Linked DNA regions of Homo sapiens: region 1 is linked to region 2. The links come from fine-mapping of genetic effects on gene expression. A gene starts in region 2. The other region holds a variant in brackets. All regions are shown on one strand. Distances are from middle to middle.

Region 1 (4,246 bases), 84 kb after region 2:
TTTTTTTTTCTTTTTCTTTTTTGAGATGGAGTTTTGCTCTTGTTGCCCAGGCTGGAGTGCAATGGCGCCATCTCGGCTCACCTCAACCTCCACCTCCTGGGTTCAAGCGATTCTCCTGCCTCAGCCTCCTGAGTAGCTGGGATTACAGGCGCCTGCTACCACGGACCCGGCTAATTTTTGTATTTTTAGTAGAGACGGGGTTTCTCCATGTTGGTCAGGCTGGCTCGGAGTCCTGATCTCAGGTGATCCGCCGGCCTCGGCCTTCCAAAGTGCTGGGAGTACAGGCGTGAGCCACCACGACCGGCCGGGCTCTAAGTTTTATTCTCAGGTCCACCTGAAGATTCTGTGAGTGACCAAGTCCTTTTAAGAAATTCCTTTTCTGCTTAAATTAGCCAGCTGTGGTTTTTGTTGCTTGTGATGAACTCTGACTGACAGCCTCCATCGTCAGACCTCATCAGCCTGTGACCACTCAGGGAGTCGCGTGATCATTCTCCCTCTGCCCCTGCTTGCACTGTCCTCCCAGAAGCCCCACACTGTCAAATGCTGTTCTGTGCTCAGGAGAAGCTTTGCCCATGTTCTTCAATGCCAGCCCACCGCCCCCAGTGCCAGAGCCCACCAGGAGAGCATGGCTCTGCGCCAAGGCCGTCTGACCGTAGGGACCACAACCTTGTCATCAGGCTCCATAGGAGGCTGCTTGGCCCAGGGGCTCATATAGCCTTTTCTGAGCACAGCGCCTTCAGCATCTCACCCAAGCTTAGGCCAGGTGAGCGACACACACACCTTCCTGCCCTGGCCCTTTAACTGGGGACTCTAAAGACACACACACACAGGCTCTCCAACCTGAATCACACTCTCACACTCATACACTCACACCCACACACATACACTCACACATATATACACTCACACACACTCATATTCACACTCATACACACTCATACACTCACTCTAACACACACACATTTACACCCAGATATACTCACACACATCTACACACACACATACACACATACACTCATACCCACACGCTCTAACACACACCCACACATCTACACACACACTCACATACACACACTAACACACTCATATACCCACACACGCAGACACACATACACAAATACACACAATCATCTTCACACACATACACACACTCATACACTCCCACTCCCACACACATACACTCACACTCACACTCACCTATATACACTCACACTCATATTCACACACATTCATATACGCACACTCTAACACACTCACACCCACACACACACATACACTCACACATATATACACACATATACTGTCTCATATTCACACTCATACACACTTATATACTCACACTAACGTATACTCACACCCACAAACACATTCACAAAATACACACGCATACACTCTCACACACTCATAATCACACACTCATACACTCATATCCCACACACTTAACACATACCCACACATATACACTTACACACATAGACACACGCATACCCACACTCATATACCCACACACACCCACACACACAGATACATACACACAAATACACACAAATCATCTTCGCACACATACATTTTCACATATACTCACACTCCAACACACACCCACACATACACATACACATACACATATACACTTACACACCGCACTTACATATACACTCATACATACAACTCTCACACTCACATTCACACACATATACTCACACTCTCAGGCACATACACTCACAGTTCCAAATTCACACTCATGCACTTACACTAATGCTCTCACACACACAGTCACATTCACACACTCTAGCACTCAAACACACACACACACTCTCACACAAGTGCACTCACCTCTTTAGCAAAAGAAATCACAGCCCATCCCTATCACTGCCTGGCTCTCCCAGGAAGTTCCCAGGCCCCATTCCTGCTCATCCGAGACCCCCAGGGAAGCGATGGGGTGGGGAGAGGCTTGGATTCAGAAGAGAGTGCGAGCGCGCTCACGGGGCCGGCACCGCATGGCTTTGGGCAGGTCGCCTCACCTCTGGTCAGGTTGACCTGCCCATCACAAAGGTCCTGGGCAGAGCCTGTCTGCAGCAGTGTGGGGAGGAAGCGAGGCATGGCGGGATGTCCCACAGGCCCTGCCAGACCCCTCTGATCTTCAACGGGGGCCCTCAGTGGGACCTGCTGGGTCTGATTCATCCTCTGCCCTTGCATACTTGCTTGTTCGGGGAACAGTTCCTCAGGAATGGGTGGCCCTCCAGATGGTCAGAGAGGAGACTGGGGAACCGATTCAGAGCCTCACACACTCCATCTGTCTGGGTGTATCATATCCCCCGTCCTCAGCCTCCCCACGCAGGGCCTCCCACCACCCCCAGGCCTCCAGTTCCCAAAGACAGATGCCTCTAACCGCCCCCACCCCCAGGAGCCCTGTGTTCCCAGCTGGACAGCTGTCAAGCCAACGAGCCGGTGGTGCTGCCTGCTACCACGTGACTCAGGCCAGATGGCACCTGTCAACAT[T/C]AGCCGCCACCAGGCCATGACGAACAAACAGCAACCTCACACGCGTCCACACGCGTCACAAGCCGTGTCTGATCTCACGGCGCCCAGCAGCCACCCCACCTGCTGTCCCGTCAGCCCTCTAGGCTCCACACCCCCACACCAAAGCCGTCAGCGCCGCACCCACCTGTGTCCCTAAACTTCCCCCAGAGGGAGGCCCCTCTGTGTTCTTGCTGGAAAGGTGAAGGCCCACGGATATTCTCAGCACCCGCAGGCTGTGGGGGCTTAATAAAGGTTAATCATCATCCCTGTACACCTCAGCAAGTTTTTAAAAATATTCGTTGAGGAGGGGGCAGGAAACTTCTGGCAGCAACTGCAATGTCACCTGCCAGAAGGACTGACTCTGTGAACACCCAAAGCCTGGTTACCAGGTGAAGGGAGAAGCAGGCAGCTGCCAGGAGGGCCTGGCAGAAGCTGGACTTAGGGACGGGGGCTTAAGTGGGAGTAAACCACTGGAAGGGCAGCCAAGGCCTTCCAGGTCAGGCTGTGCAGGTGATCACCCACCCTTGATAGAGAGGAGGGCTGCTCTCAGGGAAGGGTTTTGTTTTGTTTTGTTGAGACAGGGTCTCAGTATGTCACCCAGGCTAGAGTACAGTGGTGTGAACATGTCTCACTACAGCCTCAACTTCCTGGCCTCAAGCTCTCTTCCCACTTCAGCCTCCCGAGTAGCTGGGACTACCGGCATGTGCCAACATGCTCAGCTAATTCTTTAATTTTGTGTAAAGATGGTCTCACTTTGTTTCCCAGGCTGGTCTTGAACTCCTGAGCTCAAGTGATCCTCCAGCCTCAGCCTCCCAAAGTGCTGGGATTATAGGCGTAAGCCACCTCGCTCGGCTTCAGGCAAGGGTCTTGAGGGGGCCCACCCAGGGCCAAGCAGGAGACAGAGACCAGACCCTGTGACAATCTGCAGCATGGGCTTTTTTGGGGGGGTGCTGAGGCGGAGGGCGTGGTGGAGTTTCACTCTGTCGCCCAGGCTGGAGTGCAGTAGCGCGATCTTGGCTCGCTGCAACCTCTGCCTCCCGGGTGCAAGCAATTCTCTGCCTCAGCCTCCTGAGTAGCTGGGACTACAGGTGCCCACCACCACGCCCGGCTAATTTTTGTATTTTTAGTAAAGACAGGGTTTCACCATGTTGACCAGGCTGGTCTTGAACTCCTGACCTCGTGATCCACCCACCTCGGCCTCCCAAAGTGCTGAGATTACAGGCATGAGCCACCGCGCCCGGCCTGCAGTGTGGCCTTGACCAAGTCTCCACCTCTGTCTTGGCCTCCGTTTCCTCTGCTCCAGCATCAGGGCAGCTTCTATTTGTGTGCACTCTGTGCATGTTGGATTTTATCCAGAAGGCAGCTGCTGCTATTAGCTGAAGCTCAGTGTGGTTAAGTGACAACTGGAGGTCACAGAAGGGTTAAGTGACCGACTGATGGCAGGGAGCTGCCTTGGGTTGTGGAGAGCTGGAATCTGAACCCAGGCAGTCGGATTCCAGGGCTCAGGCCTGTGACAGGTACACTCTGCCGACTGCCTGGGCCTGGAGGGGAAAGAGCTCTGGGGCTGATGCTCTCTGGAAGCAAGGGGATGAGGCCACTGAAAATGAAGCCATGGGGTCAGCGCCCCTGGCCTGCTGCTCCTCTGGGCCATCCCCTAGGGGCTAACTGCCTCACATGTCTTCTAAACTCTCATGCTGAGAGACCGGAACTCTCCCACTGTCCCCTGACA
Region 2 (4,246 bases):
GCTGTACTTGGGTGAGTGGGGGGAAGACAGCTGTGAGGTGTATGGAATAGGATGGCCCTTCCCCAGAGGGTGAGGGCTGAGATTTCTGGCCACTGAGGAATTGTGGCCTTAACCTACGATGCCTTTTTTCCTTCCATTTTTATGTAGAACATTCATTCCCAGGAAATCTGCTCTCCACTGGAACAGTCTTCATGGAGGTTTGCTGGGGGAACTTCCTTATCTTTTTCTCAACCGGAAAAGCTGTAGGTGGAGGTGAATGTGTATGTGTGTATGTGTGTGTGTGGTGGTTGTTGGGGATAGCCTCCATGTGATTTCAAGGGGATGGGGTCTGTTTGTGTGTGTGTCGGGGAGACTTGAGATAGAGGGTTGTTCCTGGCTGCCTTCCACACTGTGGGCAGGTGGAGGTGTGGCTGGGCATGAGTAGTGCAGTATAAAGCCAGCAAAAGTGGATTTCTCAGGGTGGAAATAATAATCCTTGACTCTAGGAAGCCTGGCTCACCTGCAAACTGCATTCTCAGCACAGGGGAGGGCAGGATGCTGCCACAGACCCAGGGATTTTGCCCTCTTACCTGACCCATCAGTGAAGGGTAGGGGCAGCACCTGTATTGTGGGGAGCGTCAGTGTATGTGTCTCTTTGTGTGGGCAGCATGTCTGTGTGGGTGTGTGTGTGGGGGGCATCATGTCTGTGTGTGTGTGTGTGTGTGTGTATGTAGGTGATTACGTGTGTAGGTGTGTGCAGGGAGGTCTCTGTGCCTACCATACCACTAATGGTTCATTTCTGGGTTTTTCTTATCCTTAGGAGACAGGTCTCTTCTCCTCCCTGCCCCAGAATCAAATCATCCAAATTCTGTAGAGAAATGAGTGTTCACCTGATTTAGACTGTGCTGAGCCGGCAGAGAGGCAGAGGGGACCAAGAGAGGTCCAGGGTTGGAAGGAGAAGGAGGGATTTCCTTCCTACCCTCCGAAGTGCTAGGGTCAAGGAATAGAGGGGAGGATCAGAGGAGGAGCTGCTGCTATAGAGGGATAGCCAGAGGCTGAAAAGTCTATTTTCTTCTTTCGTGGGGCTGGGTTAGGTGAGGAGGGTCACTAGGCCAAACCTCCTACCGAGGGCAGGGATCTTAGCCCTTTCGGCTCCACCTGTGTGCGAGCTTGCAGAAAGACCGGACTGGCGGACCCAGGCTCAGCGCTGCCAAAAATTCCACTCCTGGTTTTTGCACACACCAGTCCGTCTGCCCCGGACCGCCGCGGTGTTGAGTCCGGAGCTGACGCCCTCGAGCCGCCAGCAAGCGGAAAACCCGGAGTGGATCTCCACGCCTTTTGGATCGGAGCCAAAGGGCACCTCGGAGGAGGTGGCCGGCTCTGCGGCCCTGCCCGGTGCCAGGCCGCGGCCATCGGGGGAGCACGGGCTGGGGGTGGGTCGCGCAGCGGAGCCGGATCCCCTGGCCGGACGAGCCCGGCCGTGGGGCTCGGCGGCCCTCCCCGCGGGGACTGCGAGGCGGGCGGGGCGCGGGGCGGCGGCCGTGCCCTCGGGGCGGCTTCGGGCGGCGGCGGGCGCGGGTGCAGTGCGGCGCGCGGCCGGCAGCGGGCGCAGGCGGTGGCTGTGGCCGCGGCGTTCGGCGGCTGGCGGGCGGCGCCGGCGGTGCCCCGGGCGCGCTCACACACGCGCTCACACACACACATACACACGGCCTCGTACACACACACACGCTCCGGCGCGCACACGCGGCGCGCAGGCCGGAGGGAGGCGGCTCGGCGCTGTTCGGCGGCGGCGGCAGCGTGCTCCGCGGGCGGGCGGGAGGGCTGGCGGGCGGCCCCCGCTCCCCGGCTCCGCGGCTAGGTGCAGCCCGCTCGGCCCCCGCCCTCGGACCCGCCCCCGGGGGTCGCCCGGCCCCATGCCCAGCGGCGGCGGCGGAGCAGCGCGCGGCCGCGGGCGGCTCTGAGGAGCCCGGAGGGAACCGGCGACGAGGGGACCATGTACCGGGACCCGGAGGCGGCCAGCCCAGGTAAGCGCGGCCCCGGCGGGCTGGGGCGCCCCGCACCGGCGGGCAGGACAGCGGCAGCGCCGGACGCCGTCTCGGAGCCCCAGCCTGGGGCTGTTGTCCGCCCGGAGCCGCACGGGCTCCCCCAGGGGTCATCCCAGCCCCGGGGGCGCGGGATCGAGCGGCAGCGGCTCGGACCCCGGTCCCCCGCAGTCTGGACACTGCCAGGCTGGATGTCTGGGACCGGCTTCGCAGTGTCCCCACAAGGACCTCTCCCCCACCCCTCAACAGCCCAAGGACAACGTGTGTGGCGGAGCGAGGAGCCGCTGCCCCTGTGGGAGCCGGGCAGTGCCCTCAGAGGCACCCGAGGCTCCCCAGCACCGGTGCCCCGGGGGTGCCAGCGCTGGCGGACCCCAGGGCGAGGATCCCGGCAGCTCTTGGCCAAGGTTGCGGGCACAGGGGAGCGGAGTGGCATCGCAGTGCCAACTGTGAATTGAGAGGGTGCCAGGGGGCAAGTGGGAATCTGGTGCGGCAGCTGGGCAGGGAGGTTCTGGGGGGTGGGGAACTGCAGGGGCGTTGATGGGTGAGACGGGGGTGCCTGAAGGGAAAGAGAGCAGGGGCTCATGAGAATGGGGGTGCCAAGAGAATGTTCTCCTAGGTTTGGGGAGGGGGAAGCAAACAACCCCAAACTCTCTCCCGTCCTGGGGTGGGGGAGGGCCGAACTCCTTTGCCTTCTGCTTCGCCCGCCAGGGGAGTGGCCTGGGAGCCCACTGTCTGCTTGGTATCCTCTAAGCCAAAGCCGAAGAATCTTCCCGTCTTCCTCGGAAATTGCTCTGCCATTTCCTCCTTGGCTCCTGATGCCTCCTCACCCAGTGCCCACCTGTAGGCAGGTCCCCTGCAGCTCCTGCCCAGGCTCCATCCCCGCTCCCACCTGGGGTGCTCCACCCAGTCCCAGCACCCCCAGTCTGCCAGTTCTGGCATCAGGGTCTGTTTCTGGGCTTCTCTCTGATGCTAAAAGCACGACTCCCCAGCCCAGGATGTGCTCCCAAACGAAGAGCCTCCAGGCTCCCTCCTGCCAGCCTCCTGGGGGCGGCGGTGCTGTAGGGAAGGAAGGGCTCTAAGACCCTGCACAGAAGGAGCCTGCAGCCCTGAGGCTCCTGAAGGCAGTCCAGTGGGTGCTGGCTTTGCCCACTGTTGCCCTAGCCCCACATTTGCTCTTTCCCCTCTAGGGGCAGCCTCAGCCTGTCCCTGCCTCCTGAGGAATCGGCTCCCACCCCCCATCGATTCTTTTCAGTCCAGTCGATATTGAGGACGACCCACTGGGCGCCAGGCACTGCCCTCACTCAGCACTTGGATATGAGGGTGAGAGATTCAGTCTCCTTCTCTGGAACCTTGCGCCCTTCTCTGAATGTCCTCTAGGTGAGGGCTGAAGGGGCATTGCCTGTGGAGAGCCCTCCCCTCATCTGTCTGGACCTAGGTCACCTACCCTGGCATCTTCGTCGAAGAGGCCGCCGGCTTCCAGCCCATGGCCCGTGGCAGGAGTATTCTCTTGCTCTGCTCACCTTCTTAGAAGCCAGTAGCTTAGTTCAGAAGCCAGCTCTGGGGTATGAGGATGGAAGGTAGGGAAGAAATAAGGACACTATCCATCCCCTCGCCCACCAGGCTGGCAGCCTCCCCTCTGGCCTGTTAGGCCACTGGCCTGGGGCTGTGCCCTCTCCCCTCTCCCTCCCTCCTCTTTCCTCCCATGCCTGGGCACCATGACATCACCACTCCTCCAAGCACCTCTGCCCTCACCACGGAGGCCAGCTTGACGTGCTTGGCATCTTCTAGGCAAAGGGTCTGGAGTCCAGTACCATCCCTGGTGTGCTGGCAGCCCTCAACTCTTCCCTCACCCCCTCCTTGAATGGGCCTCTCTGGCTGCAGTTGGGACCTGTCTTGCCCACCCCAGTTGCAGCTGCGGGACCCACCAGTGCCTGTGGTAGGGCAGCTGTGACTGGGAAAGGGGCTGGCCTGAGGCTGACTCCTCTCCGGTGTGGGCATTGGGCTGGGTGGGGTCAGACATAGGCTGGAGAGGGCACAGTCTGCCTTTGAGCCTAGTCATCTGGGGTCCTTGAGGAGTCAAAGATCTCATTCTGGCCTCTGCCCTCTGGCATCCCTGCCCACCTTTGTAGGCTCTATAGTTCCAGGTCAGATTTCCCTTCCCCCCAGCTCCCCCAAGGCTCCCTAGACTCAGCTCCCCAAGCCAGGGCTCTGTGTCCCCCATTTCT

The links. PIP is the estimated chance that this variant, and not a neighbour inherited with it, causes the effect.
Region 1: its variant is the best candidate, but not a certain one, in a credible set for the expression of SYT7 in cerebellum (GTEx, PIP 0.53).

Annotation. Positions count from the first base shown.
Region 1 is chr11:61,494,455-61,498,700 of GRCh38, reverse strand. It overlaps LOC105369329 (a long non-coding RNA gene), which reads right to left and starts at 2,109. Exons shown (of 3, transcript NR_188527.1): 1 at 2,022-2,109. RefSeq lists an enhancer at 3,738-4,246. The variant T/C (reference allele first, on the strand shown) is at 2,500.
Region 2 is chr11:61,578,547-61,582,792 of GRCh38, reverse strand. SYT7 (synaptotagmin 7) reads left to right here and starts at 1,717. Exons shown (of 13, transcript NM_001365809.2): 1 at 1,717-2,003. The coding sequence starts at 1,973. It overlaps LOC105369331 (a long non-coding RNA gene), which reads left to right. Exons shown (of 5, transcript XR_950166.3): 4 at 148-197; 5 at 800-1,387. RefSeq lists silencers at 1,267-1,426, 1,437-1,586, 1,607-1,696.